Regions from separate parts of the Homo sapiens genome. Here regions 1, 2, 3, 5 and 6 are each reported to be linked to region 4. The links are microRNA targets in miRTarBase. Many come from high-throughput screens and were not tested one by one. Region 4 holds a microRNA gene; each other region holds the end of a gene's coding sequence.

What was found. Region 4 holds the annotated microRNA hsa-miR-505-3p (CGUCAACACUUGCUGGUUUCCU, at 1,553-1,574, opposite strand). A microRNA usually pairs through its seed, bases 2 to 8, with sites in the 3' UTR of a target mRNA and lowers its output. Matches are read on the target gene's strand: a 7mer-m8 pairs with bases 2 to 8, a 7mer-A1 pairs with bases 2 to 7 and ends in A, and an 8mer does both.
Region 1: the mRNA of ANKRD13B is a reported target of hsa-miR-505-3p. The part of its 3' UTR that is shown has no 7-base or 8-base seed match.
Region 2: miRTarBase lists ZBTB9 as a target of hsa-miR-505-3p. The part of its 3' UTR that is shown has no 7-base or 8-base seed match.
Region 3: miRTarBase lists TMOD3 as a target of hsa-miR-505-3p. The part of its 3' UTR that is shown has no 7-base or 8-base seed match.
Region 5: miRTarBase lists MYO19 as a target of hsa-miR-505-3p. The part of its 3' UTR that is shown has no 7-base or 8-base seed match.
Region 6: the mRNA of TM9SF1 is a reported target of hsa-miR-505-3p. The part of its 3' UTR that is shown has no 7-base or 8-base seed match.

The regions. Positions count from the first base shown.
Region 1 is chr17:29,612,878-29,618,021 of GRCh38, forward strand. It overlaps ANKRD13B (ankyrin repeat domain 13B), which reads left to right. Exons shown (of 15, transcript NM_152345.5): 14 at 10-86; 15 at 477-1,884. The coding sequence ends at 705. CORO6 (coronin 6) reads right to left here. Exons shown (of 11, transcript NM_032854.4): 6 at 4,623-4,742; 7 at 4,061-4,165; 8 at 3,825-3,970; 9 at 3,402-3,459; 10 at 3,068-3,298; 11 at 1,885-2,980. The coding sequence ends at 2,855. Among named protein-coding and RNA genes, the nearest start is that of CORO6, 7.5 kb to the right of the region's middle. RefSeq lists silencers at 360-589, 750-859, 2,188-2,257, 2,705-2,918, 2,798-2,847 and enhancers at 534-1,397, 2,263-3,126.
Region 2 is chr6:33,455,757-33,460,896 of GRCh38, reverse strand. It overlaps ZBTB9 (zinc finger and BTB domain containing 9), which reads right to left. Exons shown (of 2, transcript NM_152735.4): 2 at 3,353-5,140. The coding sequence ends at 4,375. Among named protein-coding and RNA genes, the nearest start is that of ZBTB9, 3.8 kb to the right of the region's middle.
Region 3 is chr15:51,908,340-51,913,483 of GRCh38, reverse strand. It overlaps TMOD3 (tropomodulin 3), which reads right to left. Exons shown (of 10, transcript NM_014547.5): 10 at 1-4,708. The coding sequence ends at 4,674. Among named protein-coding and RNA genes, the nearest start is that of LEO1, 61 kb to the left of the region's middle. RefSeq lists an enhancer at 4,957-5,126.
Region 4 is chrX:139,922,608-139,927,751 of GRCh38, forward strand. MIR505 (microRNA 505) reads right to left here and starts at 1,624; the gene lies at 1,541-1,624. The region is part of intron 1 of ATP11C (ATPase phospholipid transporting 11C (ATP11C blood group)); the gene reads right to left.
Region 5 is chr17:36,491,584-36,496,727 of GRCh38, forward strand. It overlaps MYO19 (myosin XIX), which reads right to left. Exons shown (of 26, transcript NM_001163735.2): 26 at 4,053-4,823. The coding sequence ends at 4,668. It overlaps ZNHIT3 (zinc finger HIT-type containing 3), which reads left to right. Exons shown (of 5, transcript NM_004773.4): 3 at 1,230-1,316; 4 at 2,343-2,423; 5 at 3,640-4,239. The coding sequence ends at 3,821. Among named protein-coding and RNA genes, the nearest start is that of ZNHIT3, 7.5 kb to the left of the region's middle.
Region 6 is chr14:24,184,640-24,189,783 of GRCh38, forward strand. TM9SF1 (transmembrane 9 superfamily member 1) reads right to left here. Exons shown (of 6, transcript NM_006405.7): 6 at 4,510-5,144. The coding sequence ends at 4,776. It overlaps IPO4 (importin 4), which reads right to left and starts at 4,177. Exons shown (of 30, transcript NM_024658.4): 1 at 4,080-4,177; 2 at 3,913-3,999; 3 at 3,705-3,784; 4 at 3,577-3,618; 5 at 3,028-3,157; 6 at 2,761-2,940; 7 at 2,446-2,511; 8 at 2,239-2,340; 9 at 2,069-2,152; 10 at 1,648-1,812; 11 at 1,490-1,543; 12 at 1,222-1,331; 13 at 820-928; 14 at 544-673; 2 more. The coding sequence starts at 4,148. RefSeq lists silencers at 3,173-3,383, 3,629-3,748.

The DNA.
Region 1 (5,144 bases), not on the chromosome of region 4:
TCCCCGCAGGTCACCATCTGGGAGGCGCTAACCAACAGCAAGCCAGGCACCCACCCCATGTCCTACGAGGGTCGCCGACAGGACAGGTCAGTGCCCGCTGGGCCGGAGAGAATCCTCCGGAGAGGATCCTGTCTCCCCTAAGCCAGGACACAGCCGGAGAACCCGCGGGGCCCTCGGCAGGGACCCTCCTGGTATCGGGATGGCTTCTGCCACCACTCCTGCCTCCGAGGCGGCAGGCAGGGGTCAGGGATCCAGGCTTCACCGCGGAGTTCAGACTCTCCCCAGGCATTGACGGGGAGAACTTGGTAGGGTCTGGGCTCCGCCACGACCAGGTGGGGGCCAGGACGCCGCGGGACTGACCGCCTCCACTAGAGGGTGGTGGCCGCGGGCCGCCCTGGAGCCTCCACGCCGTGTCCCGGCCCCGGCCGGTGGGTGGGTGCGCCCGGGAGCCCGCGACATTCCTTCCCCACCCCCAGGAGCGCCCCGCCCACGCCGCAGCGCCAGCCTGCGCCCCCGGCGTCAGTGCCCAGCCCTCGGCCCAGCTCAGGGCCAGGTTCCGGCGGCCACGTGTTCCGGAGCTACGACGAGCAGCTGCGGCTGGCGATGGAACTGTCGGCGCAGGAGCAGGAGGAGAGGCGGCGGCGCGCGCGCCAGGAGGAGGAGGAGCTGGAGCGCATCCTGAGGCTCTCACTGACCGAGCAGTAGCGCCCCCTGCCGGGACCCTCGCCAGCGCCACGCGCGCCACGCCCAGGGCCAGGAGCCAGACAAACCCCGGCCTGCGCGCCTGCAGAGCGGCGGCTGGAGACTGGAGCCACCGCCTCGCGGGTGCAGCAGCACAGCAGGCACGGTTCGGGGAGGGATTCGGCATGGCCGCGGGGTACCTTCCCAGGCCAGGGCCCTGGAGGCAACTGGCACGGCCTGGTCCCCCTGCTTTGCTGTATTCTGATTCCCCAACCCGCTCCCCTGGGCTCAGATCTGTCCTGTCCTAGGGCGGAGCCAGGCGGTCCTGAGGGGGAGATGAATCCTTAGAGGAGCGCTGTCCCTATCCCTTGCTCCTTCTGGCCGGTCCGCATTTCTGTTCACTAACCCCACTCCAGGACACTGCCCCTGAAGCCTTTGCATCTCTGCTCTTCACTCCTGGGGGGCAGCTGAGCTCCCCGCGTGCTGTGTCACTGCTTTGTTCCAGACACAAACCAGCACGTCTAGGGCCCAGCCCCTCCCCCACCCCGGCATTTCAGCGTCAAGTGCACTTAGCGGGGTACCCGGCTCCCCCAGCCCCCACACCCGTCCTGGGTCTCAGGGTGGTTCCAGCTTCTCCTTGGGCAGCCAGAAGTTGGAGTCCCATCCCCCAAGGCACATTTTTTTTTTTTTTTTTTTGTGATCAGGGAGTGTGTCCAACGTAGCCCCCTGGCCTGTGCAAGCCCTGACTCCCTCATGGTGCCTCGGAGAGTGGGGAGCATATTGGGCTGGGGTAAGCACTAGACCCAAGTAGACTGGACACAAAGGGCTCGCCCAGGGCCCTGGCGCCACCCCCACCCCTTCCCACCAGCTGCTGCTAGCCTCTGTGGTTGTACATCCCACTTGCCCCCACACGGAGACTGACTCTAAAACCCTTCATCCAATGGTGCTAACCCCCGGCTCTCCCCTGCCCCACCTCACCCACCCAGAGAAGCACAGACCCCGCCAGGGGCAGGGGCCCACCGCACACCCTTGTCCCGGGCCTGTCTGGGACTGGCCTTCCCGGCTCAGCCAGTGAGGCTCAGAAGGGACACAAAGAGGGATGGAAGAAAAGAACAAAGAGAAACTGTTCCTCCCACCCCCTTCCCTGATGCCAGGGGCACCAGACTGATTCTGAGGCACAAATAAAAGAGGCTTCATACCGGAGGCTTTTGCTACCTAACTTTACTTGGGGGGAACGCCTACGGTGTGGGTTGGGGTCCTTCTGAACCTCAGAGTGGAGAGAGCTCTAGGGTAAGAGGCTGCCTGATGGACCCTGAGCCCAGGAGTGCATCGCCAGGTCTCCCAGGAGCCTGGGGGTAGCATTTGCAGAGGCTGGGGGTCTCGTTCCCCTCACTCCCACCCATGCAGGAGGCACAGACTGAACGCTTAGTAAAATATTTCATTCAGTACGTCTTGTTTTTCTGAGAGAGGCAACGGCAGAGGGTTGGGGGCAGTGTGTGTGTATTTGTGATGAACCTAACTCCTCATGCCAGTTCTCTCGAGATTTCTTCGCGGGGGCTGCCGCGAGGAAGCAGCCCTCGCCCCTGTCGGTGGAAAGAAGGAAGAGAGTTCTCTACCACAGACCGCTGTGGGTGTAGCCACTGGGTCCGGCTCTGCAGCAAACGGGTTGTGTATGTGTCTGCAGAACTGGGGTGACGCCCATCTGGTTTACCGCTCAGGGTGATGGAATCCAGTGAGCTGATTAGGAGAAGCGCTGTCATTTTCCCCAGCCTGGGGGTACCCATCAAATCGCCACCCGTTTGAGGTCAAGCTCAGGCTCCAATAACCCCAAGCATCACGCTAATACTAAGCACTTTCCCTGCCCTGGGCGGAGGACAAAGGGGGACACCACCTCGCCGTGCAGCACCATTGCTGAGCCCCCCAGGTTACCCCAGGCCTCCCTAGGCCAGCTCCAGCCGAGTCCCAGACGAGGCTCGCAGTCCAGCCTCCGCTGGAGCGACGTGGGTCTCCCCTAAGCTCCAAGAGTTCTGGTCTCCCGCGAGGGGCGGAGTTCCCTCCCCAGTCCCGCCCCCGGGCCCAGCCCAAGAAGGCGGGGTCCGGAGTTCGGGACTAAAAGCCGGGGCGGGGCCGAGCTTGTGCGCCCCGCCCCGCTCCGCCTGCCTGGCGCGCGGGGCTAGTCCGTGCCGTCCACCAGCTCGCACAGCATGTTCTCCAGAGCCGTGATGCGCTGCTCCTGGGCCTGCACCCGCTCGCGGAGGGCCTTGATCTCTTCCAGCAGCGTCTCCAGGGTGTGCTGCTGCTGGGGCGGAGGACAGAGAGGCCGTGTCGTATAGGGGCGGTTGGGGGAGATGTAGATTGGGCCAGAGTGCAGCAGGGCCGATCTTACCGACAAGGGGGCGTCGCTGGCCGACTGGCTGCGGCGGGGGCCGGAGGGCGGGCGCACGTCCAGGATGTTGCGCTTCGTGACCCGGAGCTCGCGGTGCTTGGGGGGCACATAGCCGTCCCTCAGCGAAATGAGCACGGGTTCGGCGTCCTGGCCGGATAGCCATTCGTCCGCTTCTAGGGCCGGCTCCGGGCCTGGCGTATCCGGGTACAGATCGTCCTGGAAGAGGTCTGACTGCGGGGGTGGGTGGACAGGAGGACTTGCGTGAGAGGGTGCGGGGCTTGCTCCGCTCCCTTCCGCCTCGTAGCCCTGCCCAACCCTTCTCCCGGCCCCTCACCTTGCGGGGCACAGTCATGATGATAGGTTCACACTTTCTTTCGTGTAGCTTGTAGAACCTATAAGGGAGCAGGGTTCAGCACCCTCGCAGACTTCCACGTCCTTAACTTCTCCTGTCTAAGACCAAGGGGGTTGGAGGCCAACACTTGCTCAGCGCCTACCATGCATATTGCACATTACACACATTATTGGTTCTGCAATAAAACACCCTGATGGTGTGTTCACCATCATCTTATAGATGAGGAAACTGAAGTTGAGAATGTAAGGCTAGTGAGCGGTGGGTCTGGCACTGAAACAGAGCTGTCTTATCCCCCCGCCCCGCTTTTCCAAAGCACTGCATTACTGGGGAAGCCCCGTGGCTAGGACCCGACATGAGTGGGGGACAGAGGCGGGTAGGTGTTCAGGAGGGGCCAAGGCTGCTGACCGGGCGATCTCACACTTGCTGACATCCAGTCCCCTTTTGGGCATGAAACCCATGCCCCGCTGCGGCTCTTTGCTGCTGAACGTGTTCAGGTAGTGCACGAAAGGCGGCTCGTCGGTAATCTCAAAGTACCGAATGCTGCTGTCGCCCTGCAAAATCAGTCGGTTCAGGGGCGCGCCCGGACAAGGCCCTCCACATCTCCATCCAGTGCCCTGTTCTCCCTGCCCGGCCGTGAGCACCTTGCCACACAGGTAGACGATGCTGGAGTCGGGATCGTAAAAGGGCAATAGGACCCCGTTGCTTGTGTCCATCTCCTGCAGTGCCACTGGCTCCTCGAAGTTGTTCTGCCCGAGCACAGGAGGCGTGACCAGCCCTGCCCCACCCTCCCGTGCTACTTCGGGACCCCCAGAAGCCCCTTTACGCTTCCTGGCCTTCCCAAACCCTATGCCCCAAACCTCTAGTGACCAGAGTTGCAGGCCCCTCCCCTGGGCACATCTCTCCTCCTCCCCTGCGCACATAGCTCCTCCTCCCCTGCACATATACCCGCTGCGCGCCGCATGCAGTCACAGCAAACCACCCCCAGGGACTCGGCATCACCAGGTGGGGGCGCCAGCGCAGGATCCTTCACGCGACGCAGCAAAACTGGGCAGAGGGGTGGGTGTGAGAATGGCAGGCGCTGCAGAGGTGGCAGCAGCCTTCAGTCCTGTCCAGGTGGGCATGCCCTGCGGGTGGGGGGCGCCTGGCCACTCTCCCGTGATGCCAGTCCCCGAGGCACACACCCCAAGCCTCCAGCTGCGTTACCGGGTCCCACAGGCCCAGCTCTCGCTGGCTCATGCGGGTGAAGCCCGTGGTGAAGATATGGCCCTGGCGCGTGAAGACGGCCCGCATGGGCCTCATCCCCTCGTGGGCCGCAAACCTCTCCTGGGGGGAGGGGGAGACAGGGAGGGACATCACCCAGCTGCCTGCCCTGAGGAGCATGGAGGGATGAGCAACCAGCTTGCTGACTTGGGTGTCCGGGGTGGAGGAGCGGATGCGGGGAAGAGACAAATGGGGCCTAAGCACTCAGCTTCCTGCGGGGCCACGTCTGGCCCCTGACCTGGAGAGCATCCGGGCCTGGAGAGAGCAGGAGGCACGCGGCTCTCAGCCGATCCCGAACCCTTAAGCGCGCTCAAAGGCCGATCCCTAGAGCAGGGGTGTCTGCTGGCTCCCCGGAGTCGCAGCGAGGCTTTTCCCGAATGGGAGCTCCCCGCTCCGCTCTGGCCTCTTGGGCGCCAGCCACAGCCCGGGAAGGCGCTCCCGGCAGACCCAGAGAAGGAGCGAGCT
Region 2 (5,140 bases), not on the chromosome of region 4:
TGTTCTCATTGTTCAATTCCCACCTATGAGTGAGAATATGTGGTGTATGGTTTTTTGTTCTTGCAATAGTTTACTGAGAATGATGATTTCCAATTTCATCCATGTCCCTACAAAGGACATGAACTCATCATTTTTTATGACTGCATAGTGTTCCATGGTGTATATGTGCCACATTTTCTTAATCCAATCTACAGTTGTTGGACATTTGGATTGGTTCCAAGTCTTTGCTATCGTGAATAGTGCCGCAATAAACATACGTGTGCATGTGTCTTTATAGCAGCATGACTTAATAGTCCTTTGGGTATATACCCAGTAATGGGATGGCTGGGTCAAATGGTATTTCTAGTTCTAGATCCCTGAGGAATCGCCACACTGACTTCCACAATGGTTGAACTAGTTTACAGTCCCACCAACAGTGTAAAAGTGTTCCTATTTCTCCACATCCTCTCCAGCACCTGTTGTTTCCTGACTTTTTAATGATTGCCATTCTAACTGGTGTGAGATGGTATCTCATTGTGGTTTTGATTTGCATTTCTCTGATGGCCAGTGATGGTGAGCATTTTTTCATGTGTTTTTTGGCTGCATAAATGTCTTCTTTTGAGAAGTGTCTGTTCATGTCCTTTGCCCACTTTTTGATGGGGCAATTTCCTTTATTATGAGTGTGATCTCTCTCTGGGAGAACTGATCGCAGTAAAGGGGTGGGGAACCGATGACTACTGGTCTCACTCATGATAACAGCTAACACTTATTGAGTGACTACTGCATGCAAGGCATGGTTCTAAGTATTTTACATGTATTAATTAATTCTCACTACCCTGTGAGCATGGTTAAATGTAATGAACTACAGAGACAGAGAGGGGAAAGATAAAGGAGAGAAGTGATAATTAAAAGAGCAAAGGCTCTGGGAATGGGGCTATCCTTTGACACTAGATTGGACATCTCCTCCACTGCATCTTCTGAAGGACAGAGGCAGAGAGGTAACAAGTTTATTTGTTTAAACCAAAATCTTTAATTTCAGCACTTGTTTTCTGTATAATACCTAAAAACAAAAGAAGAAAAACTCTAACAAGCTATTTTAATTGCTTTGATACAAGTAAGGACAAAGTGTCATGGGGATTAAGGAGAGGGAAGAAACAATTCTGCCTTAAGTCCAGCGGGCAGAGGTGGAAGTTGGGCAGCTTCAGCGTATCTTGAACACCCACTAAGTAGCAAGTATACCTGAGGCTTTGGGATCCCAAAATGTGTAACATATGGAGATCGTCCGGTGTGTGTCTCTGTTGCTGTGGGCTGGCCAGAACCCATTCTCTTCTGTCCTAGGACTTCAATTGCTTTTGAGGATTCCATGCCCACTTTGTTGCCATCTTGATGGACTATATGATCAAGGTGCTCTGACCAGAGGGTGGTCATGAGGCTTAGAGTTCTTTCCCTGGGAAATTTTATCTTGAGATGAGTGACACAAGAAACAAGAATGAGTCATCATCCCAAACTGTATGCCTTGGAGTTCCTGCGCCATGGACCCCCAACGCTGACCCAGGTCTTATCCTTCTGATGGCTGGTCCTTTGGCCCTTCTTTGAATTCCAAGAGCCACCCCACATCCTGCCATAAATTCCTTGTCTGGTGAGGTTAGCCAGAGCCAGCTTCCAGTGCTTGAAGCCAAAGGATCTTGGCCAATGGATATAGCCACCCATAGAATATGTGTCAAGAATAGCTGATGGATGGGATTATAGCAGATCCAAGACAGGTTGACCCCTCTTCATCCCCTTTCCCAATAAGTTCACAGTCCTTATCATGGGGATGGGATCATGGCATGGCTCTTTTGAGACACTGTCAAATCCCAGCTAGAATTTACCTTCTTAGCCACAGTCACATTTTTCAGACCCTTCTGAGTGCCATACCTCATAACTTTCAGAAACAAACTTTGGGGAAGGCTATCACCCCTGGCCCTATACTTCTCAGTTCGACTCCTCTGTTTACCATCTCCGTGTCAGTTCAGCCACCCACACCCATGACCACACTGTGGCACATGGAAGCTGTGTTTGTGAAACCTCTGCTGACCTAGAGAAGGTCTTTACTTAGCTTTCTTTGTGCCATTCAAGTGGTTTGTACTGCCCACTATCATCAACTTATCCTATCACGTTGTAATGGCTTGTCTATCTTTGGTAATACCTGTGAACCCTTTAAGGGCAGTGTATTAATCAGGGTCTAGCATAGTGCTTTGCACTGAATGTTTGTAGAACAACCAACCAAACACAGAGAACACAGGAAGTTGGGGAATATTATAAAGATCATGTGAACCAGCCAGGTGCGGTGGCTCATGCCTGGAATCCCAGCACTTTGGGCGGCTGAGGCAGAAGTATCACTTGAGCTTGGGAGTTCGAGACCAGCCTGGGCAACATAGTGAGACCTTGTCTCTAAAATAATAATAGACTGGGTGCAGTGGCTCAGGCCTGTAATCCCAGCACTTTGGGAGGCCCAGGTGGGTGGATCACCTGAGGTCAGGAGTTCAAGACCAGACTGGCCAACATGCTAAAACCCCATCTCTCCTAAAAATACAAAATTAGCCAGGCGTGGTGGCACACACCTGTAGTCCCAGCTACTTGGGAGGCTTAGGCAGGAGAATCGCTTGAACCCAGGAGGTGAAGGTTGCAGTGAGCCAAGATCACGTCACTGTACACCAGCCTAGGCGACAGAGCAAGACTCCGTCTCAAAAAATAAATAAATAATAATAAAAAGATAAGTGAACCAACCTCTTTTAAAAAGGAAAACAGAACCAGTTAGGTGTTCCACACCACTCTACCAAAAAAAGTACTAGTTCAGATTTTAAAACGTAAGGCAGGCCAGGTGCAGTGGCTCATGCCTGTAATCCCAGCACTTTGGAAGGCTGAGGCAGGCGGATCATGAGGTCAGGAGATCCAGACCATCCTGGCTAACACGGTGAAACCCCGTCTCTACTAAAAATACAAAAAACTTAGCCAGGCATGGTGGCGGATGCCTGATAACCCCAGCTACTCAGGAGGCTGAGGCAGGAGAATCACTTGGACCCGGGAGGCAGAGGTTGCAGTGAGCATGCGATTGTGCCACTGCACTCCAGCCTGGGCAACAGAGTGACACTCTATCTCAAAAAAACAAAACAAAACAAAACAGTAAGGCAACCTACTGAAGGTTATTAAGTAGCAGGTCAGGGCCTAAGTCCAGAAGAGTGTTCTTGGCACCATCCAAGGAATGGGTGTGATACCATCCCATTCCTTCCCCATCAACATAACCTAGCCACCTAAGGAACACACCCAAGGCTCTGCAGCTCCATTCTCACATTCTCTCCCACACAAATTACTCAATCCAGTCCACTGTCAGTTTAGGTTTCAGGGCACAGTTTATTAAAAAATTTTAAGTAACTGCAAGTCCCACCCCCGATTCCAGTATCTGTCCCCTCCATATCTCAACAGAGGGGCTGTCTATCATATGTGGGTGGGATGGGAAAGGAAGAGGTATGGTCCTACTATGCAAGTTACTCTCCAGCCTTCAGCTTGTGCTGTCCCAAACCTGAGTCCCTCTGACCAAGGTAAGTTGTTCAGAGAGCAGTGGTGCCACCCTGACAGCACTTTAGGACAGTGCCATCTCCTGAGATCACTAGTCACATTCCAGTCATTGTGACCAATATATTAGTTATCAGTGGTGGTCAAAGGTAGACCAGAGGCACAGGCTGTTGAGGGAAGACCCTCTATTAAAGAAGGTTCTAAGAATGAAACATGGAATGCTCAACTTGTTAAAGTGCTCAGCTACAACATTAAAAAAGTGTCGGGAAGGTGTCTATTGGTGAGAAAGCAAGGTACAATCTGAGGGGCTCCTGGAAAGATACAATTTTAAAAGTACACAAAAGGACTTCTGCTTAAATCATTCCAGCAATGAGAGAAAAAAGCTTAGAGCTTAGCCTCTGAATTACTTAAGCTGTAAATCAAATGTATCTCTAGGTGGAGACCAACTCCTTCAATTCCTCATGGAGACGGAATAAAACATTTACCACTGTCTTTTGCTCTAACTCTTCTCTCACTAAATAATTGAAAATCTGGTTTCCTTAATGGACATCACCACCACAAAAATGTCCACCATGGGCAAGTGATCAACTTAAGTATGAATGGCCTATAAACCACTTTCCTGCAGGGTTGGCTAGCCAAAACCTGGAGTGGGACGAGAAATTTGAGTTTCCACATCTGCCAGGCTGAGAGGCCCATATCTAAGAACAAGAGGTCCATAATGTATCTATTCTCTTGGCATGATTACAAGATCCATGACTGGTGTGCCATGGCAGTGAGGGAAAAGTATCCATCAGCAGCAGTGGTTATCTTGTTCTAGAAGCTAGTGTATAGCCTCAGCAGTCACTTGTAAGTCCAGTGGGCAGTGGCCCAGCCCTGGCCCTTGCATAGGTCCCGGTGGCGGAGAAAACAGGCATGGACTCGGAACCGACGGCCACAGTGGGGACAGGCATGCAGGGCTCCAGCATGGGTCTTCATGTGCTCTGTCAGATGGTGCTTCAGCTTGAAGCGCTTGTTGCAGATGCCACAGCCAAAAGGCCGAAGGCTGAAGGTCAGCATGATGTGCCGGTCACGCTTTGGCTTCACTGCAAACCGCTTCCCACACAGGCAACCAAAGCGTTTTCCATCTGCAGGGGGTGTCCCCCCTAGCTTCACAGGCCCATGCACGGCCTGGCCTGCTCCCCCAGGTCCTCCACCCCCTGACAGGATTTCATTCCCATGAAGATCCACTGGTTTCCAGGATGGACCCCCTCCCCCAGATGTTGGCCCTGGCCCTGAAGGCAACAAGAACCCTAGCTCCCCATTCCCTTCAGTGTCCCCTCCAGAAAACACTTTGGTTTCCTCCTTTGCTCCTCCAGGCTGAGTTCCGCTTCCTGATATCTCCTCCTTAGGCTCGAAGGGTTCCTGCTTAATGTAGAAGATTTTGGGGGGCAGTGCAGGAGGGGCAGGAAGCTCAAGTGGTGCACTCTCACCCTCTGGAAGCTTTCGGGGAGTAGCAGTCATGGGCAGTGGGTGGGGTCCATGAGGACGGGGAAAAACCCCTGATACTCTCTGGGGCTGAGGAGTCTGAGAGAGTGTGGCTGACCCCTGGTCCTCATCATCATCATCT
Region 3 (5,144 bases), not on the chromosome of region 4:
GCTGGGACCATTAAGTGTTTCAGATTTCAAATTATTTTGGATTTTGGAATACTGGGCATTACACCAGTTCAGCATCCCTAATCTGAAAATCTGAAATTCTAAATGCTCCAATAAGCATTTCCTTTGAACACTATGTTAGTACTCAAAAAGTTTTCAATTAGGGATGTTCAATCTGTAGATCTAAGAATGACCAAATTAAAATATAAGAATAAGGCTGAGTGTGGTGGCTCAAGCCTGTAATCCCAGCACTTTGGGAGGCCGAGGCGAGTGGATCACCTGAGGTCACTTTGAGAACAGCCCGGCCAACATGGTGAAACCCCGTCTCTATTAAAAATACAAAAAGTTATCCGGGCGTGGTGGCGGACGCCTGTAATCCCAGCTACTTGGGAGGCTGAGGCAGGAGAATCACTTGAATCTGGGAGGTGGAAGCTGCAGTGAGCTGAGATCGCACCACTGCACTCCAGCCTGGATGACAGAGTGAGACTTGGTCTCAAAAAAGAATATAAAAATCTTTGCCTCTGAATACTATTTTCTCAATTTAAAAATAATTAGTGAAGCGTTTCTTTGATTTGTTGGTAAGCAAATCTTAGGGTAAGAAATATCCAGAAACATTAATGATCAGTGAGAGCTGATGGAGAGGATAATTTTACAGATACTTAGACCCCAAGAACTCATAGCCCTTAACTGAGAGCAGCAACCCGAGTTGTCTCTAGTGCATCCATATGTTTGCTTCTCTTGGGTGACATGGGTCAATACGTTCAAAGTGCAGTAACACTGTAGAATGAGTAAATTTGGGCAGTACTAAACTTGCAAAGAATGGAAGTGACTAAGGACTCCAGAGAAAGCATGATCCTTGCATCTGCTGGGAGGTTAACAGTGGTTCCTAGTTTTTTAGGGAAAAAGTGAGGCAGCCCTGGGAACACAGACCCTAAAATGTAAGATTTTATAAAACTTCATAAATGTTGTCATCTTATTTTAATGACAGCAAGAGTTAAATATAACGTACAATATGATATGAGTAACATTTTATAAAAAAAAAAAAATTTTTTTTTTTTTGAGACGGAGTTTCACTCTTGTTGCCCATGCTGGAGTGCAATGGCGCGACCTCAGCTAACTGCAACCTCCGCCTCCCGAGTTCTAGTGATTCTCCTGCCTCAGCCTCCCGAGTAGCTGAGATCACAGGTGTGTGCCACCACGCCTGGCTAATTTTGTATTTTTAGTAGAGACAGGGTTTCTCCATGTTGGTCAGGCTGGTCTCGAACTCCTGACCTCAGGTGATCCGCCCACCTCGGCCTCCCAAAGTGCTAGGATTACAGGCGTGAGCCACCGCACCCGGCCCAAAACATTTTTTAAAATAATTTTTATTATGTCATGGAATCCTCTTTTTAAACAAAAACACAACAGATACTCGGTCAACTGGAAAACAATTTATAGAATTCTATTTACATGTAACTTCTCCAGAGCGAATATCTTATACAAAGCAAGGATGTGGGTTATTTCAATCAAATAACATGAAGTCGCAATTAAATGACCAAGCTAACTCTCCTTGAAGTCTCTAACCATCTGCTAATTTATTTAATACAAAATGCTTATTTGGTCTTTTAAATGACAGGCAACTTTGAAAGTGTATTTCACCTATTCTTGAGAATTCTACTAGGCTTTAGCTACAAGAATATAGCACCAAAATCCATTTTAATAGTATTAATATTTGCCACTAATATTGAGTTTTTAATACATACAATTTCATGTAGGAATACTGGAAAAATTCAGACAAATATGAGTATAACATTTTATAAAATGGGTAATAAAAAGCTTTTTTAAAAATAGCAATTTAAAAACACAAAGAATATTCTTTTAAATAACCACATAAGCTGGTTAGACTACAAAACCTAAGGTCTCAGAAAACCTTTGGCTTAAAAATTAAGACTATTGCAAAACCCTAATCTATTTATTATAAAATTTTAGAGCAATTTAGAAATACTGAAAGTTACTAAGAGGTGCCAGATTTTTAAAGATTGAAGTAAACCCGATTTTTCTCCCTTATAATTTTGGAAAGATTTTGTAAATTCAATTGGATGAATGTTCATATTTAATGTCACTTATGAAGAAATCATTTCTTTCAGTTATACAATGAACTACTATAATGCAGAATTGAAATGGTACAAGCAAAATACTCAACTTCATACTTTGATAAATAATATATGAAAAAGATATTACCCATAAGTATGATGCAAAATTTTAGGTAGAGTCCCACTTACCTATATTAAAAACAAAAACAAAAACAAAACTTAAGGGATGAAGGGGGAACTATTTATCAACTAATTGACTTACAGGACAATGCAAACGAGGATGCCTGACTGAAAGTCTAGGTGACCAATTCTTTCTGGTAGCCTGAGATGCCTGCTCCATGCCTGACTCCCAATCTTGCTGGAACTGTGCAGTCTCTATAAAATCAAGTACAATCAAAAAGCTGCATATGCGGGGAAAAAAAAAGAGAGGAGAAGAGAGGGAGGGAGAGAAATAGGTAAATAGAGAAGGTAGGAAGGGAGAGGGATGGAGGCAAGGGAGGCAAGAAAGCAAGCAAGTGAGCCTTGCTAACTTAGAAAAATATCAGTGGCCTTTAACTGACAGGGAATAGTGCAAAGTTAACCTTTGGCCCCTATAAAACATTGGATACTGATTTAAAAAACAAAACAAAACAAAACCAAAAAACCAAAACAAACCAAAACAAAAAAAAAAAAAGAGAAACACCACAGTTCTTATGAGGGAAGCTTAGCCTGTTAAGAAGGCTTATTACCATAGCACACAAGAAGCTGCCTTGCTTATTAGATAAACTGTCCAGCCCAAGCCAAAGTAGCAGACATATTGCAATTCAATTTCAAAAAGTTTGTTTGTTTGTTTGTTTTTTGAGACAGAGTCTTGCTTTGTCACCCAGACTGCAGTGCAGTGGTACGATCTCAGCTCACTGCAATCTCCATCTCCCAGGTTCAAGCAATTCTCCTGCCTCAGCCTCCTGAGTAGCTGGGATTACAGGTGTGCACCACCACACCCGGCTACTTTTTTGATTTTTAGTAGAGACAGGGTTTCACCATGTTGGCCAGGCTGGTCTTGAACTCCTGACCTTAAGTGATCCACCCACTTTGGCTTCCCAAAAGTGCTGGGATTACAGGCGTGAGCCACTGCGCCCGGCCCAAAAAGTTTAAAAAAAATTAATAATGATTAGCCACCTTGCCTTCCTCAGAAATGAGACTTTTCCCTCCAGAAAAATCTCTGTAAATGATACAGCCAGGCCTGAATTTTGAGGCCAGGGCTACCTCAGATTCCATTCCTCCCTGTTTTCTGCAGCTGTAAATGCCTCTGCCATCTCCTGCTCCAGGGGCTGCCCTGAGACAGAACATGAATACAAGTCCAGACCCTCTACCCAGCATCAGCTCTGCAGTCTCAAATCAGTCTCCCGACCACAGTACTCTATTCAATTGTTCACCTTAATACTTTGAGCAAGAAAGACTGCTTTTATTATAGAAATGACTTTTATAAATATTGATAAAAGTATAAGATGAAAGGAAGCATATACTAAAAATTAGATTTATGAAGAATAGCAGTTTTCCTTCTTGGTTGGAAGATTTGTAGCAGTGATTAAATACTGTTTATGCAATTCTGCACTGCACATAGGAACTTCTTCGGATATGGTGTAACACCAAGTAATTTACATACATGCCAGCTTCCAACTGACTTACAGTAACCATCAGTTTAAATGACTGTTTTGCAAGTGCCTCATACTGGAAATCTATCATATTTATTATCTTTGATTTCATTGTTTAACAGTTTTCTTTTTTCTCTTACCCTAAATAACTAAGAGTTGGCTGTACGCCTTTTTTGGGGGGTGGGGAGGGAGGTGGTGAAAACAGCTTTTATTTTTTACTATTAGCTTCCACAAAAATTTAATAATGCCCACATTATTAAAATGAAACACTGGAATGAACTTCGACCTCACTATACTTTTAAATAAAGTATGTAACCTGGCAAAGCTGATGACTTTGTTTTAAGAAGACCTGGGTGTTGCTACGTCACATCAGACAAGTGCAGTAACCTGGAATGCACAGACGACCACCCTCTCTCCCTGGAGACCTGCTTTAGCTCCTACACAGATGACTAGATTTTGAGTTAACTGTTTTAACATTCTGGCATTTTGTTCTCTTGATAAAGAAAAATCACACCCTTGCCAAGTTCATGTATTTTAAAAAATGGAAAACTCTCCAGGTCACGGAGTGAAGAAAACACTTAAGTGTTTTATGTCTAAATGAAGCAATAACAATTCTGATACCAGCAACATCCCTTTTGATTTAAAAAAGATTGGTCCTCACAATGTTCAAATTATTCTACACAAATGACCTGTGAAATTTTTTACAGTTGTATTTTTTTGCCCAAGATTCATCATAAATCATTCAATTAAACTAAATTAAAATTGATTTTAGCAGAAAGTAGAAATGTTTCAGAATATAAAATATCACATTACTGATTTTACAATTTGATAACAACTAAAAAAAAAATGCATGTCACTAAAAAAATTTTTCCAGTCTTTTCCCTTCTACCCAGGAAAATTTTACATGATGTCACCAACATGAGCCCTTGGTGATCTTCTGAAGTCTTCCAAAGATTACACCTTTGCAGACTTACTGGTGATCTCCTTCAACTCGTCTCTTACGCACTATGAGAAAAATAAAAGAAACTATGTTAGAAATCCCTATTAGTTTTTACAATGGTAACTTGCTTATAACAAGCAAGTTTCTGCATAATCCAGTTATAAGTTTTACAAAATTGAAATGTCCATTTCCAGTTCACATGACCACTAATTAAAAAAAAAAAAAAAACAACCTACTTCCCATCATTCACCACTGTCATTTACTTGTTGAGAACCAAGGGGCTTCAACAAAAGAATTACATGCCCTAAGCTCAATGACTCATAGCTGTGCTTACACAGCAGCAGCACTAGAAATCTAAAACAGAATGGTCAGCAATCATCTACAAGTCATTTGTTTTTGTTTATTTTTAACTTTGTAATTTATTAATAAAACAGACATTAGGTCTCACTATCTTGCCTAGGCTGGTCTTGGACTCCTGAGCTCAAGTGATCTGCCCGCCTC
Region 4 (5,144 bases):
CTCATTTCACTCTTTTTCTGCCATGTGAAGATACAATAAGTCACCAGTCTGCGACGTGAAGCCCCCTCACCAGTACCCAACCATGCTGGCATCCTGATCTTGGACTTCCAAGTTCCAGGATTGTGAGAAATAAATTTCTGTTGTGCATAAGCCACTGAATCTATGTTATACTTTTTATTTGTTTTGTTTTGTTTTTTTGAGGCAGAGTCTCGCTCTATTACTCAGGCTGGAGTGCAGTGGTGCCATCTCTGCTCACTGCAACCTCCACCTCCCTGGCTCAAGCAGTTCTCCAGCCTCAGCCTCCCGAGTAGCTGGGATTACAGGTGCTCTCCATCACACCTGGCTAATTTTTGTTTTTAGTAGAGATGGGGTTTCACCATGTTGGCCAGCCTGGTTTTGAACTCCTGACCTCAAATGATCCACCTGCCTCAGCCTCCCAAAGTGCTGGGATTACAGGCGTGAGCCACTGAGCCCCACCTGTTATACTTTTTTTTATAACAGCTCAAACTCATTTGGGGTTGGCATGTATGTTCTCTAAATTGACTGGTTCCCATGCTTTAAGTACAACAATGACCCTGCACCATTGCTCAGGTAATTGCCTCCTCCTGTAATGAGACTGCCCATCCCTAAAATCTCAGAACCTTCAGCCCTTTGGGTCCCCAGAGGCCCAGTTGACAGGCTACTTCCTCCATAAAGCTCTCCCCAAGAAATGAAGCCAGAGAGCCAGTGCCTCCTTCTGAATGCCTACTGCACTTACTGTGTATGTCCTTCAAAAGGATGGCTCTGGTGACCTACTGGCCTTGTGTGGAGGATGGTCCTGTGTGCTGGTCTTCTCTCTCTTCTACCAAACTGCAGGCTACTGGTGAGCAGGGCTGTACCTTACACACCTCTACAGCACCAAATAGGGGATGAGTGTTCCAAGAAAGCTGTGATTCACATGAATGTTTTCAGAAAAGAAGCCAGAATAAATTGTACACTATACTATAGATCCCTTAATCCTTATTACTGCAAAATACATTAATTGTGAAGCTTAAAGAACGTCCCCACTGCTTACACAACAGGTGTAGCTTACATAATCTGCTCTACCCAGCTGTTACTTACTTGTGGCAATTCCCTCCTGGCTTCTACTCCCTGTCGATATGTGGGATTACTGCACCATCCAGTATGATTTCCTTATTCCTTGCTCCAATCATAACAAATTTGTTAATTTTCCTTTATAACAGTAAAAATGGCTGAAACTCCAAATAACCAGAGATATCCCTAGGGTTTTCCATGACTATAAAACTCAAAAGACAATCCAGGATATAAACCAATATTTGTAAATATTGCCATAAAATTCATTGCTCAGAATTTTTTTTTTCCTATATAGTCTTCTTTGACAAAATACTGCAGTATTCCCACCATTTGGAAATTGTGTTACCCAAAAGGTATAGAATGGGATGAAGTGATGATGCAAATGAGTATTAGGACTATGAGCAAATGAATGGGAGCAGTAACAAAAGTCCAAAAGTCAGGAAAAATGAAAATCCACGAACTTGGCGATGCTCCAGAGAGGAAACCAGCAAGTGTTGACGCTAAACTGGCAGAAACATCAATACTTCCTGGCTCCCCCACTGGGTGCATCAATTTACCACCGGCAGGCTGCTCTTCTGCTTCAAGTGACAAACAGTAAGTGCTTTCAATGACAGTATGAAAAGGAATGACCCATAATCTAGAAGCATGGCTATGGGCAGCAAAGAAAAGATGTGATTGCTGGGAGTCTGTCTCAGCTGTACTGCTGATTAGCTTAATGATCTTGGACAAGTCATTTCCTTTCACTGAAAAAATACCAGTGTTTCACAATATTTGCGTGATGGAAAGAGTTAACATAGCAGGCCTGACACTGCTATTCTTAGTAAGGCCTGTTTGCAAGGTTGGTCCTTGGCTGGTGTCTGGGGACTTGGATTTTGGGAGGGTTTCCATCACCCTGATAAGAGTGGCTCACTCTGCTTAAGCTGTGTAAACAATAGGGTTTACACTGAATACCTGCTTTCCTCCTTGGGGTCTGGAATTTTGCTGTGTACCAGGTGGAGGGTGCCTGTGTGACCAGCTCCCACTAAAAACCCTGGGTACTGAATCTCTAATAAGCTTCCCTAGTAGACATTTCACACAAGTTGTCAAAACTCATTTGCTAGAGGAATTAAGCATGACCTGTGTGATTTCAGTGAAAGAGGACTGGAAGCTTGCACATGGTTTCCTCCAGACTTGGCCCCAATGAGCCTTTTCCCGTTACTGACTTTGCTCTGTATCCTTTTGCTATAATAAATCACATCCGCAAGCGTTTCTATGTACTGAGTTCTGCCAGTGAATCAACAAACCTAGGCCGGTTTTGAGGACCTCTGTCACAATTGGTATAGTGTTGAATAGTCTACCAAACGTTTTTTTCAACAGTCTTGTGAAATAGGTATTATTATTCCCATTCTATCGATGAAGAAACTGAAGTTCAAAAAGGTGAACAGAGAGTGTGCCCAGAAAATAAATATTTCCGTGTTTACTATATTATATATTGCTGTTCTCAAATTTTAGTGAACCTAAGAACCACTTGGAATGCTTGTTAAAAACAGTTTCTTGGAGTCTGTCACCCAAGACTTGGATTCAGTAAGTTCAAGGCCCAGGAATCTGTATTTATAGTAAGCATACAGGATTATTATTATTTGAGATGGAGTTTTGCTCTTGTTGCCCAGGCTGGAGTGCAATGGCACGATCTCGGCTCAGTGCAACCTCTGCCTCCCAGGTTCAAGTGATTCTCCCGCCTCAGCCTCTCAAGTAGCTGGGATTACAGGCCTGTGCTACCACTCCTGGCTAATTTTGTAGCCCAGTCTGAAATGCATAAGCTTCTTGGTGGCTGCTTCCTAAACTGATCATTCTTCATCTGTTATTACTGACTCAGACTGTGTTACCAATTCAGCTCAAAACAATTAAACAAGTATTAATTGAACATCTACTGTTTACCTGATGCTGTGCTAACTGCAAGATCATTTTCAAGAACACTTCTGATTTTTCCAAGAATACCTTGGTAAAGAGAAAGGGACTAGGAAAACATTGCCACATTAATACTTTATGACAACATATAATAGAGACGTCTAAAAAACAAATGATGATATCTGCTTGAACAGCAATATCATCAACATCACCAATCCTCCCATATTCCATTAAATACATATGGCACAAGAAATCAATGATTTCTACTTCACAAATACAGGTTAACCTTCTAAATCTGGAAATCCACGGTCCATTATCATTTATAAATCACATCTTCTATTATCAAGAAGTCAGCCGACCCAGTAATCCGTCCATACACTGCAATAATTGAGGGGCTGTCTGCCAATGTGTGGGCATAGGGCATCCTGTGCCCATATCTGCAGTGCTGAGCACTCATTCATCATTAAGCTGCAGCAGTGTTAACATATGCTGCAGTTGTGCCAGTATGTTTTGTTTTACGATCACCGCTAATCTACCCTTATACCAGGCCAAGAAGGTAAATGTTAAGTGAAAGGAAATAAACTCGAGAGCCAGCACCTAATTCATTTGTGGAAGCCCAGAACCTCCCTCCACCTAACCAGAAAAACTCCCCCAGTCTCGAGGGTTCCAGATGTAAAAGGTTCATCTGTATAAAGCACTACAGATGTACAGGAAATTCCACCACCTTGAAGAAAAAAATAGTATTTTTTTTTTATATCCCATGCATTCACCCTCTTTGAGAGAACTGAATAACCATGTTAGACAAGCAATGAGCCTTGATTTTTTCCATCACTCAACAAACCAGTATTTGATTTCACTCAGTGGGCTAGTTCTTTGCACATCATGCAGACACAGCAAGGTTAGTTATGGTTCTTTCAGGGGCCACTGGCCATCCTTTACCTCCTAGAACCCACTGCTCAGCAGGTGGTAAACTGGCAGCTTTTTGAAAAAACAAGCTCTTTTGAACAGTTGCATCAATATAAAAATGGCCAGCTTCACCTGCCCAAATCTCAATTCAGCTAAAAGTTAATTAGGAACACTGGAAACTACCTGGTATATAGGCACTCAATATTACTCACTAAATGGCTGAATTATTAGCAATAAGCATAAACAAAAGGAACAAACAGTAAACACTTACAGAAAGTATTCAGGACACATTCAGAGTTTTATGTTGCTTAGTCACTAAAAGGTAGATCAGGAAAAAAGAAGACAAAACCTGCTTTCACTTGTGTAAAGATTTATTTCAAGTTACAGTGGTTCATTTCTAAATAAGTTTCCCACCTTGCGTGGGGTCAGCCTAGCATCTATTTGCAAAAGAGCAGTTTGCCATGCGTAGGTCAGATGAAAGGAGACAAATGCAAGAAACTCCTTTTTAACTGACATCCAAACAACCAGAAAATAACTGATATTGTACAATCTATTTTTAGTAGAAAGAAAAATGACAAGTATGTAATAGTAACTTATTCACAAAGATCAAATTTCATGGTATGTCACAAATGTATTCAATGCAATGCAGTTACCATGCCCTCTATATCTATAGTTGTGTATGTAATGATAATTACAGCTCAGGAAGACAGGAACCTTGTCTGTCTTGCTCATCTACGACCCCAGGATTGACTGCAGTGCCCAGCACATAGTAGGTGCTCAGTGAATATTTGCTGAATGATAATTGCTCTGCAAAACCATACAATGCCTTAATCATCTAAGAAAGAGGCCAGGCATGCTGGCTCTTGCCTGTAATTCCAGCACTTTGGGAGGCCGAGGTAGGGAAATCGCCTGAGGTCAAGAGCTCGAGACTAGCCTGGCCAACATGGTGAAACCCCGTTTCTACTAAAAAATACAAAAAATTAGCCAGGCGTGGTGGCAGGCGCCTGTAATCCCAGCTACTAGGGGGGCTGAGGCAGGAGAATCGCTTGAACTCGTGAGGCGGAGGTTGCAGTGAGCCAAGATCGTGCCATTGCACTCCAGCCTGGATGACAAGAGTAAGACTCTGTCTCAAAAAAAATAACAATAAAAATAAAAATAAATAAAAGAAGGGGATATTTTGTGGCCGGGCTCATGCAGATGGCAGATCCTGGGACTTCTCAGCCTCTGTAACTGCATGATCCAATTCCCATAATAAATCTCAAAAAAAAGGAAAAAAA
Region 5 (5,144 bases), not on the chromosome of region 4:
GGCAGGAGCCACTGTGCCCAGCTTCTCCTTCCTTTTGCTAGATCTCTCTCTTGAAATGTGGTCCTTGACTTTTATTCCTAGGTAGGTGATCTCTCTTTCACTTTAAACTTTTTTTTTTCTTGCTGACATCCAACTGTTTAGCTCCAGCCTCTTTTTGAGCACCTTAGACACAAATGTATTTTGGGGTCAGGTACAACCCAGAAAATTCACCTCTCCTTCAGTCCCTCCTGCTGTGTTCCTTACACATATAGCATAGCCGTAAAGTTAGACCCGGATTCCAAATCTGCCTCTGCTACTTACTAGCTGTGGACCCCAATGGACAAGTTTATTACAAGAAAATTTAATCCTTTCATCTGTAAGTGGAATTAACAGTCTCCATGTCATGGGGGCTTCGTAAAGGTTCATTGAGCCACTATGTATCTCACTGTGTACCTGGCACAGTGCTCGGCACTTAGTCACTGGCAGCTGTTGTAACTGCCACCTACATGACTAGAACCTTTCCGTAGCATATTGTCAAATCTACATTTTAAGTCTCTACAATCTGGTCCTGCCTTTATGTCCTCAGAACCCTTTCCTGTGACTTCATGCTCTGTTGATACTGTCACCCAGGCTGGAGTGCAGTGGCACAATCACAGCTCACTGCAGCCTTGACACACTGGGCTTAAGGGATCCTCCTGCCTCAGCCTCCCAAGTAGCTGAGACCACATGTGTGTACCACCATGCCTGGATGATTTTTTTTATTTTCTGTAGAGACATAGTCTTGCTAGGTTGCCCAGGCTGGTCTCAAACTCCTGGGCTCAAGTGATCCTCCCACCTTGGCCTCCGAATGTTAGGATTACAGGCGTGAGCCAGCACAGCTGGCCTTCTGTTGACTCTGTAAGTTCTTTGGTGGTTTTGCCCCTAGTTTTATCCCATCTGGTATCTGGTTTACAGCAGCTATTTCAAACACCTCAGTTAATTGTGGTGAGAATTTTGTAAGATTCGGCAGGGTAGGGAGGATGGGGACAGGTTCTTGGGGTGCATGAATGAGTCCTGCTTTCTCAGCCTGCTGGCGGTTTTCCTTAATCTCTCTCTTGCTTTGATCTCTCACTTCTTCCACATTCCTGGGCACCCACCCACATCCCTTACCCCAGACACTTGCTTCCTACCTAGATGCTACCTTGGTAGGGAGGTGCAGCCTTGTCGCTGAAATGGAGGTAATGTGGGCCTGGGATTTGTGTCTTTTTCAGAACAGTGCAACCCTGAAACTCGTCCTGTTGAGAAAAAAATAAGATCAGCTCTTCCTACCAAAACCGTAAAGCCTGTGGAAAACAAAGGTGGGTTGGTTGACTTCAAACAAATCTACAAGGGACTTCACATAGAATAAGTCGAAGGAAAAGGGGAGAGTGGGGCTGGTCAGGGAATCCAGAACAATAGCTTCATTGGGAAGGAACAGCTTCCTTAGCCTTGAGCATCAGGAGTGGGGCCATGTCATCATGGGTGATATTGAGGCAACAGCCTGAAAGCAGTATTCAGGAGAAGAAAAATGGGCAGAAGACAGAGATGAGAAAGGCCATGGCTGTGGTTTGGGGGTTTGCGGTGGGCCCTGCTGGCAGGAGCCTTCTCTAGCCCATAGCTGCTGGTCTCCCTCCATGAATCTGGCTGGGACTGTCAGTTCACCTGAACTCAGCCCAGGCAGGAGGCTTTCTTTGTCCTAGATCATCTCGCTGCTGCTGGGGGTTCAGAGCTCACAGCAGTAGTGGGCTGTCAACCCATCCGTCCAGCCATCTAAACGTTCTTTAATACCTCCTGGGTGTCAAGCACCATGCCAGGCTCTGAAAGCAGCCCCTCTGGTGCCACCAAAGAGGTATTGAACATTCACTCCAAAGGCATGGCCCATTTTTGCCCTTTGAGAAATTTCCAGGTTGGGTTCAGGCAATGCCAGCAGTTTCTGCCCATGCTGAAAGCACAGGAGATTCTACTTGGCTGGTTTTTACAGAGCATCCAGTTAATTGGCCCATCACAGGGTTGGAGCCATGTTGAGGTGGGGATGGGTATTAAGTTATTAGACAACCGGGGTCTAAGCCTAAAGACCACAGGACCACATATACAGTAAGGATGTGAACACTAGAGTGCATTTGTTAAAATCACCAATTCTTTCACTTAGCCTCCCTCTTCTAAAAAAGGAGTGTTAGTATAGTCACAGACTCCGGAGAAGAGGATTTTTGTCTGTACCTGCTTGAATACCCCTATCACTATCACATGTGCGTGCACACATTTTTATCCTGTTCAAGTAGTGGTTAAAATCTGGTGCCCAGGCCTCCTTTTTAGCCATGAGCCATTGACTGTTTTGTATTCCTTAGATGATGATGACTCTATAGCTGATTTTCTCAATAGTGATGAGGAAGAAGACAGAGTTTCTTTGCAGAATTTAAAGAATTTAGGTAAGTCTGTGCTATGCTTGTCAATCGTTGAGATACATTTACTGTGTTGTAAGGATTGTGATTTTTTAAAAAGTTTTTAATTTCTTGAATAAGTATGGCATGTAGGGCTCTTACTATCTAGCCACATAATCTGTAAACATACAGGGTTTCACACCTCCCAGCCTGCCCACACCATTCCTTCTGCCTGGAATCCTGCTGGTCTTGTGGGTTGGCAAAATTCTGCTCCTCCTTCAAGCCTTGGTTCAAGTTTTCTTCACTCAGCTAAGCTTTTCTTGACCTTTTGTGTCTCTTTCAGAATTAGGCACTTTTTTGGTTTCCCATAGCAACTTGGACTTAATAGTAATAAATCACTGTTACATTTCATGGTAATTTGTCTCTCACATACCGATTTGTACAGCAGGGACCTGTATTCCCAGATCCCCAGTGCTCAGCTCACAGTCCAGCCCTTAACACAAACTGGTTATCACATGATTTGATTTAGGGGGAAACAGGTGTTGCCATTTTTGTAGCACTGCTTATTCAGTCCTTACAACATTCTGTTACATGTGCATGGGGTCTGTTAATTTCATTCTTCCCATTTCACAGAATCATGTTAAAAGGTTATGTTTTGCACTTAGTCTCATGGTAATGATTAGTTAGACTGAGTTTGGAGATGAGCTAGTAATAGGTGTGAAAAATTTTACAGACTGTGAAGTACCATGCAGGTATTATTGTTGGTTCCCTGCTACTGGTGCTGCTGCATGCCAAATGGCATGCTTAGACATCATTCAGATTATTTCGTATAGCCGTCTTCACCACTGGCAACTTTTATGGCTAGAAAGAAAGAAAACATGCCAGCAGCTTAATGCTACTATTTGCTTTGTGATTGTGCTGATAAAGCATTTTTTTCTTAGCTGAAGTGGCACGAAGTTACAATATTTACAAAGATACCAAGAACTGGTATCTGTTACTGCATTTAATGCGGAAATAGTTTGATATGCTGGTCTTACCTTTCATTTTATAGAGGTGGGGTCTCGCCATGTTGCACAGGCTGGTCTTGAACTCCTGAGCTCAAGCAATCTGCCCACCTTGACCTCCCCAGTTGCTGGTATTACAGGCATGAGCCACCACACCTTGCTGATAGTTTTATTACACTTGAAATAGCTCTTCACTTTTCAGCCATCTCCATGTGTTTCCACTTGAACTCAGACTGGCTTTTTTTCTTGTTAATTTTTAGGGGAATCTGCAACATTAAGAAGCTTATTGCTCAATCCACACCTCAGGCAGTTGATGGTCAACCTCGATCAGGGAGAAGACAAAGCAAAGCTCATGAGAGCTTACATGCAAGAGCCTTTGTTTGTGGAGTTTGCAGACTGCTGTTTAGGAATTGTGGAGCCATCCCAGAATGAGGAGTCTTAAGATGGATTATTGTGCTGCTTGCTCAAGCGTGTGCTTGACTCCTGGAACCTGCCTGCTCCCTCTCCCAGACCAGCTAGTTTGGGGCTGGGGAGCTCAGGCAAAAGAGGTTTCCAGGATGCAGATTAGGTCATGCAGGCCTTTACCGGCATTGATGTGGCTCATGTTTCAGGCAGACTTGGGGTCCTTAAGGTGGCAAGTCCTTTATGGAGAGAAAACTTGACATTCAGATGATTGTTTTTAAATGTTTTACTTTTGGTACAGTTGATAGACATCATAAACGATATCAAGCTTACACTTCATATGGAGTTAAACTTGGTCAGTGTTAATAAAATCAAAACGTGATTCTACTGTACATTGCATTATTCATAATTTAATTGTTTGAAATTACATTAAATAAATCAACTAATTAAATACTAAAGTTTTGTTCCTTTTTAAAGGAAATAACCACAAGATTTTTCCCAGCCCAAATTCCAGCGCCAATTTTAGGCCAACTTTGGCTGTTTTCTTCCAAAAGTGCTTATGTGGAATTGGGATCCCCAGTGTAGTGACAGACAGTCATGACTGCTGCTGAGTTTGATCTGTGAAGGTAGTGAAATGTGGCCCTGATGTTTCTTAACCCTGATTTGGTAACTACCAGCCCTGACACCATCAGTGCTTGATGTAGCCTGGAACCCCAGGCCCACTGACGCACTGGGCACGGGGCTCTGGGTCGAAGGCTGGAGCCGTCACTGTTGTTCATGTGCATTTGGAGCACTGTGGGAATAGTCTGGCAGCTGTGTGCTGATTAAATGTCTTTGGCAAGGCAGGGGGCAGGAAAAGGCCTTGTGGAAACAAAGGCACCAAGGATCACCCCAGCCCAGTGAAGGCAGAAGAGGTCACGTGGATCAGCCTGTGTCTTTCCAGCAGAATCTGATTAAAGCCTGTAATGCTGTAGGGTGAAGGTTCAGGGCAGATGTCAGCATACCGCAGTGGAGACTTTCTGCAGTGAAACTTTATCGATCCCTAGAGGGGAGAGAGAGATGCAGCTTTAGCACTAGTTCCTGGGAGTGCCAGGGCCTAACAACCCCACAGAGCAGACGCTAAAAATGCAAGAAGGTATGGACAAGTACTAGTATTGGGGGCCACAGCAGGATTAAAATAGCATTACATCCACTCAGTGTGAGACAGATGAGGAAACCCTAGGAGGAGGCGCTCCCTAAGAGGAATGTCTGTCACATTCCTATGACTGCTTAAAGCCAGAAGGGCAAAACATTTACCCTTCTGTTTAGCAGGCCTGTGTGTTTTCATGGGAGACTTCATCCAGATTAAGGCCTATAGTTATTC
Region 6 (5,144 bases), not on the chromosome of region 4:
TCTCACTCACCCAGGCTCTGGATCTGCACAGGCTGAAGGTCCTCACGGCCTGTTAACAGGAATTCCCGCAGGTGCTCCATGATGGCAGGGAAGTAGGGCAGCAGCGAGGCCTGGGCAGCCGTAGCTGCAGGATGGAAGGACAGAATCAGAGCTGGAGAGGGCAGGGACCACCAGCCACAGGGCCTTTGGGTGAACCCCACATCCCTGCCTCCTGCCTCTCTCCTCACCAATGGCTCCCAGGGCGCTCACAGCCAGCTCCTTGGCCCGGGGACTGCTGGGGTTCCTCAGAAGCTGCAGCATGCATTCCATAAGCTCCGGAAGGTAGGGCTGCACCTTGGGCCCTGTGGGAAAGGATGCTCCTCTACCAACCAACCCAGGTCTGCTACCTGCACGCCCACCTCCCTCCAGGCGGAAACCTTTTTTTGGCACCATCACACCCTTTCCCCTACCACAGGCAGCAATGCAGGGAGATGCACATCCTGTACATTCAGCCAAAGCCGCCGCCTCATCCCCCTTCCCCAAGCTCCCCACTGCCATCACTACCTAGGTTCTCCACAAAATTCTCCAGGGCATAGCAGGCCTTGGCTAGGTGGTGTGTGTGTCCAAGAGGCACCGACTTCAAGTAGGCGAGGAGCAGTGGCATTACCTCCCTTGAATAGCTGCTGATATGGGGCTGGGGGAGGGAGCAAGCAGGGCCTGAGTCAGGTTCACCTGCCGGGCACACACAAGAGTGCTGATGGCAGCAGGGATGCTTGAAGAGATGAAAGATGAGGGGAAGGGGACATTCAAGTGGTGGCTCCCACATTCAGCCTGGTTCACCTGTAGGTTTTCTGAGAACTGGCCCAGGGCAAACAGCGCAGCATTGCGTACAACTTGCGAGGGGTCCTCCAGGCCCTTGCACACAATCTGCAGCAGTGGGGGCAGCAGTCTGGATGGGGCAAACAAGAGGACATAGGCTGAGAAGCTACACCTGAGAGCCCTAGGCTGACCTGTTCTCTTCATTTTCCCTGGAAAAACCAAGGCTTTTCCTGTCACCAGAGGGTGGGCAGCAGCCCCTGGTCCCTATAGCTGGTAAGCCATGTCATTTATCTTCCAAGCCAGGACACTTTTGATAATGGGGGGAAACGCTGTTGATAAATAAGCTTGAACAACAAGCGTAAACCAGGACAGCCATGGTCCTCCCTGTGGGCAACCCTCACCCTGGGACAGGGGAATACATACCTCTGCCTGATGTGGTCGCCAGCTCCGTCAGACAGCACGGCCAGCACCAGGAGTCCAGCTTTGCGCTGGTATGGGCTCTCGCTCCGCAAAGCCTCTTCCAACATGGGCATCTAGGGAAGCATGTGGCACGCTTCTGAAACCCCAGCAAGAGCCTGCCCATTCCTGTGGTAATAGGCCTTCACACCTCCCAGGGTCTAAACGTCGTTGGCCTCAGGGGGACTAGGCACACTTGGAGGTAGGGACACCAGAAGGACAGAGCCACACTTACCAGCTGGGGACAGAGCTTCTCGGGGGGCAGGTGTAGTGCCAGCATGTCCACAACCTGAGATGGGATGGGGAGACTTACTTTGCTTGACTCCATCTCTGCCTCCCCAACGTCCCACAGCCACCTAACACCTTCCCCCTCTGTCCTGCCCCACATCTCACTTGTACAGCGAAATGCTTGGGAGTCTCCCCCATCAGCTCAATCTCCAACTCTTCCTCTTCTGAATCCTGGTCCTCGGGATCCAACTGGCCTGGTGGGGGCTCAGCAGCCACAATGGGGAAAAGGGTGTGCAGCAAGGGTGGCAGGAGACGATTCTTCAGTAAGGCCTTGACAGAGAAGGTGGAACAGTGTCCCTAAGAATCTGCTCCCAGGATGGGCTCACATTAAAAATTCCAGTCTTCCAGGCCATAAGGGGTCTGACAGAAAATTCCCAACCTCCCAGGCAGGAGCTGGGGTGAGGCCAGGCCAAGGCTTGAACCCCCACAGTACTTTAGATACCCTGAGATGGACCGAAAGCCCCAGGAGTGAGACTAAGGGTGGAGATGGGGGTGGGGTGATGTGTGTCAATGGGCACTCACTTACCTTGCTCTTGACTTTGACCAAGAAAGTGAGGCAGCAGAGAATACGTATGCGTATCGCATTGCCCAGGGCCACATTTCTAGCTACCTGTCCACAGAATAATAAAAATCAGCGACAGGGAAGGAGAGTCCCAGCAGAGCATGTAGCAGGGGCCATGTCCACTCCAGGCTCACCTCCAGGCAGAATGTGAGGACTTCAGAGAGGTAGGGGGTGATGACCGGCACCTCTGACTCCAACAGTTCATCCAAAGCCTCAAGGGCCTCACAGGCCTTTGCCTGACAGACAAACAAGGCACAAGGTTACCATGCTCTTCTTCAGTGGGCCAAACTGGACACTTCTGCACTCTCCTTCCAACAGAGCTCCTGCCCACCTGTCCTCACCTCATCTATGGGGATCAGAGTCTGCATGGCCATGATCAGCTTGGGCACCAACATCCGAGCGAGAGGCTGAGGGACACATCACAGAGAGCATGATGCAGCCCAATCTCACACCCCAGCAGCTGGCAGCTTCCTCACAGCCTGAATTGCGAGGAGGAGCCCAGGCATAACAGCCAGGCCCACCTACAGCATCCCCTCTCAATTGTCAGGAAGGGCCACAGGCAGGTAAAGAATCCAAAGCAGCTTTGTAACTTTTACGGGTGAGGACATGAAGGCATGAGGAAAGGGAGTCAAAGATAACGAGGGCCCACATCTCACCACATCTTCAGTGCTGAGGTAGGGAGCCATGGTGGTCAGAGTGCGCAGGGAGTAGAAGAGCAGCCCAGGAGAGCCCACCTCACCAAGAGTCTCATTCAGAAGCCGAAGAAGCTCCCGGTGGTGGGGTTGGAAGGCCTCGGGCCGGGAGGTCACCACCACACTTAGCAGCAAAAGCCCCATCTGTCCAAGAATAGAGGATGGGAGAGCAAGCTTACAAGGTCTATCCAGCCTCTCAGGCCCTCCCTCCTGCCAACCATGTGATGGTACCTCTCTCTCTGGGCTGTGGGGGCTGTGGGTACTGTGCTGAAGCAGCTGCAAAAGCTGTGGCCAGGCCTCCAAGCCTTCCTTTCGAAAAATGGTGGCTGAGAGCTGGGCCAGGCTGAGGCTCACACAGTGCCTGCAAACAGGAGAGATCTCCTCCAATCACCCTTCAATACCTTCCTCTGCACACAGTGGCCAGGCTCAATGGGGCAGCCAGGACAGAAACTTTCAGGAGGTGTGGGCACAGGGTCTTTGCCAAGTTGGGACACATGAGACAGCAGCTCAGAGGGAGCCCAACAGCACTGTGGGCATGTAATCTGGTAAGTTCAGTCTAACTTAGCCTGAATTTCAGTCTTATTCTTCTGACTTGGGTTTGGCAGATCATCATCACCCTTCCTCAAGAACTTTAGTCTTCAAAACAGCCTTAAAATCCTCACTCCACCTTGCGTCTAGAACTGAAGTCCCTGCCCCACAAGTCCCAGCCTGGAGCCGAAAAGGAAGGCAGAAACCTAGACAAAGTCGTCAAGATCCCGAGAGAAGTGGGTAGGTACTTACTCTGTTTCTCTCTGCAGGGCCGTCAGGATCAGGGACTTGAGGCTGGAACACAGGTGGCAGGTGTTTGGTACCCAGCCTGCCCAAGAAAAGTCTCCGCCTGGCCCCGCCCCACCCCAGGCCCAGCCCACCTCTCCCGTTGCTCCGCCGCCAGCCGTCGCCAGCGGGTGTTCAGTCGTCTGCGGGTCAGCACGGCCGCAAACTGGCGGATCTAGGACGAGGAAGCAAGCACGTGGGGGTCCGGGCAGGAAGGTGCTGAGCGGACCGCAGTGGGCGAATACTGGGGCTTGACCGGTGGCGTACAGTGGGAAGCTCGGAGGGGAGAGTCAGGGGTCTCACCTGGGGGTCGGCCGCCGAGGCTAGCAGGTCGCAGAGAGCCGGCAAAGCGGCGGGGGCCCGAAGAACGATCTGGAGCTGTTCCGTGGCCTGGGGGGAAGCTAGGGGTGAGAGTTGGGCCTTTCCCGCAACCTCCCGCTCGCCCTGGCCCGGTTACGCCTGCTCCGTACCCGACGGATGCGCTCGGTGTCCGGTAGCAGCAGCTCCCGTAGGAGCTGCTCTAGCCCGGCTGACTCCATGGCAGCAACTGAGCCGCCGCTACTGGGCCGAAAAGGGGAGGGGGAGGGACAGCACGTGGAGGTTCTGACACCCACTTCCGGAGGAAAGGGCGTTGCTGCACGCCCCGCGGGTTGCCAAGGTGATTCAATTCGCTTCCCACAAAGAGGTCCGGCTCCTCCACTTCCGTTAGGCTGAGCACCGGCTGAATCGCGGAAACCCGACTCTGGCAATGTAGGTTCCCCACGCCGGGAGTTCCCAAGCTGGGTTGGAGAACTCGAGCTTCGGGCATTCAGTGGCCAGCTCGGCTTTATAAAGGACCGTGCCCTTAACAGCAGGGCTCGAGTTCCTATATCCAGACCAAAACCTCCAACTGCATGAGCCTTTTTCTTAATAAATTTTATTTTGGTAATTGTAAAAAGAAAAATCAGGACCAAAACTAAAGGCAACTTAAAAAGTTCAAATATATAATCCTTATGTGATAGAGATTTATAATTTCCAGGCCCTCTCTGGGGAAGGAATGCCCAAAGGGCAAAAGGGAAGGCAACAATGCCATCACACAATTCAGTCAATCAGAAGAGAAGCTGGTAGGAGAGTTCAACAGGGCATGAAGAAAGGGAGAGAACAGCAATAGTTCTGCCATACAGAACTCAGTCCATCTTGAGGTTAACATAGATATACCGGATGAACTTTAGGGAAGAAAAAAAGGAGATGGTGCCCAGCATGAGGAAGAAGACATAACCAGTGAGTAAGGAGTAGCCGAAGAACTCTACTGTCTGTACTGCCCCAGACATGTTGGAGCGCCGGGCATAATAGAAAACTGAGTAGAGGAAGATGAAGAGGCCGGTGGAGCCAACACTCAGCACAGATCGCCACCACCAGCGGTAATCCTCCCCAGACAACTGGAAGTAGGTGAGTGCAATGGAGATGCAAGCCCCCACACTCAGCAGGATGGCGAAGACAAAGAAGAGGATGCCGTACAAAGTGTACTGCTCCCGACCCCATACTGTGGCAAAGAT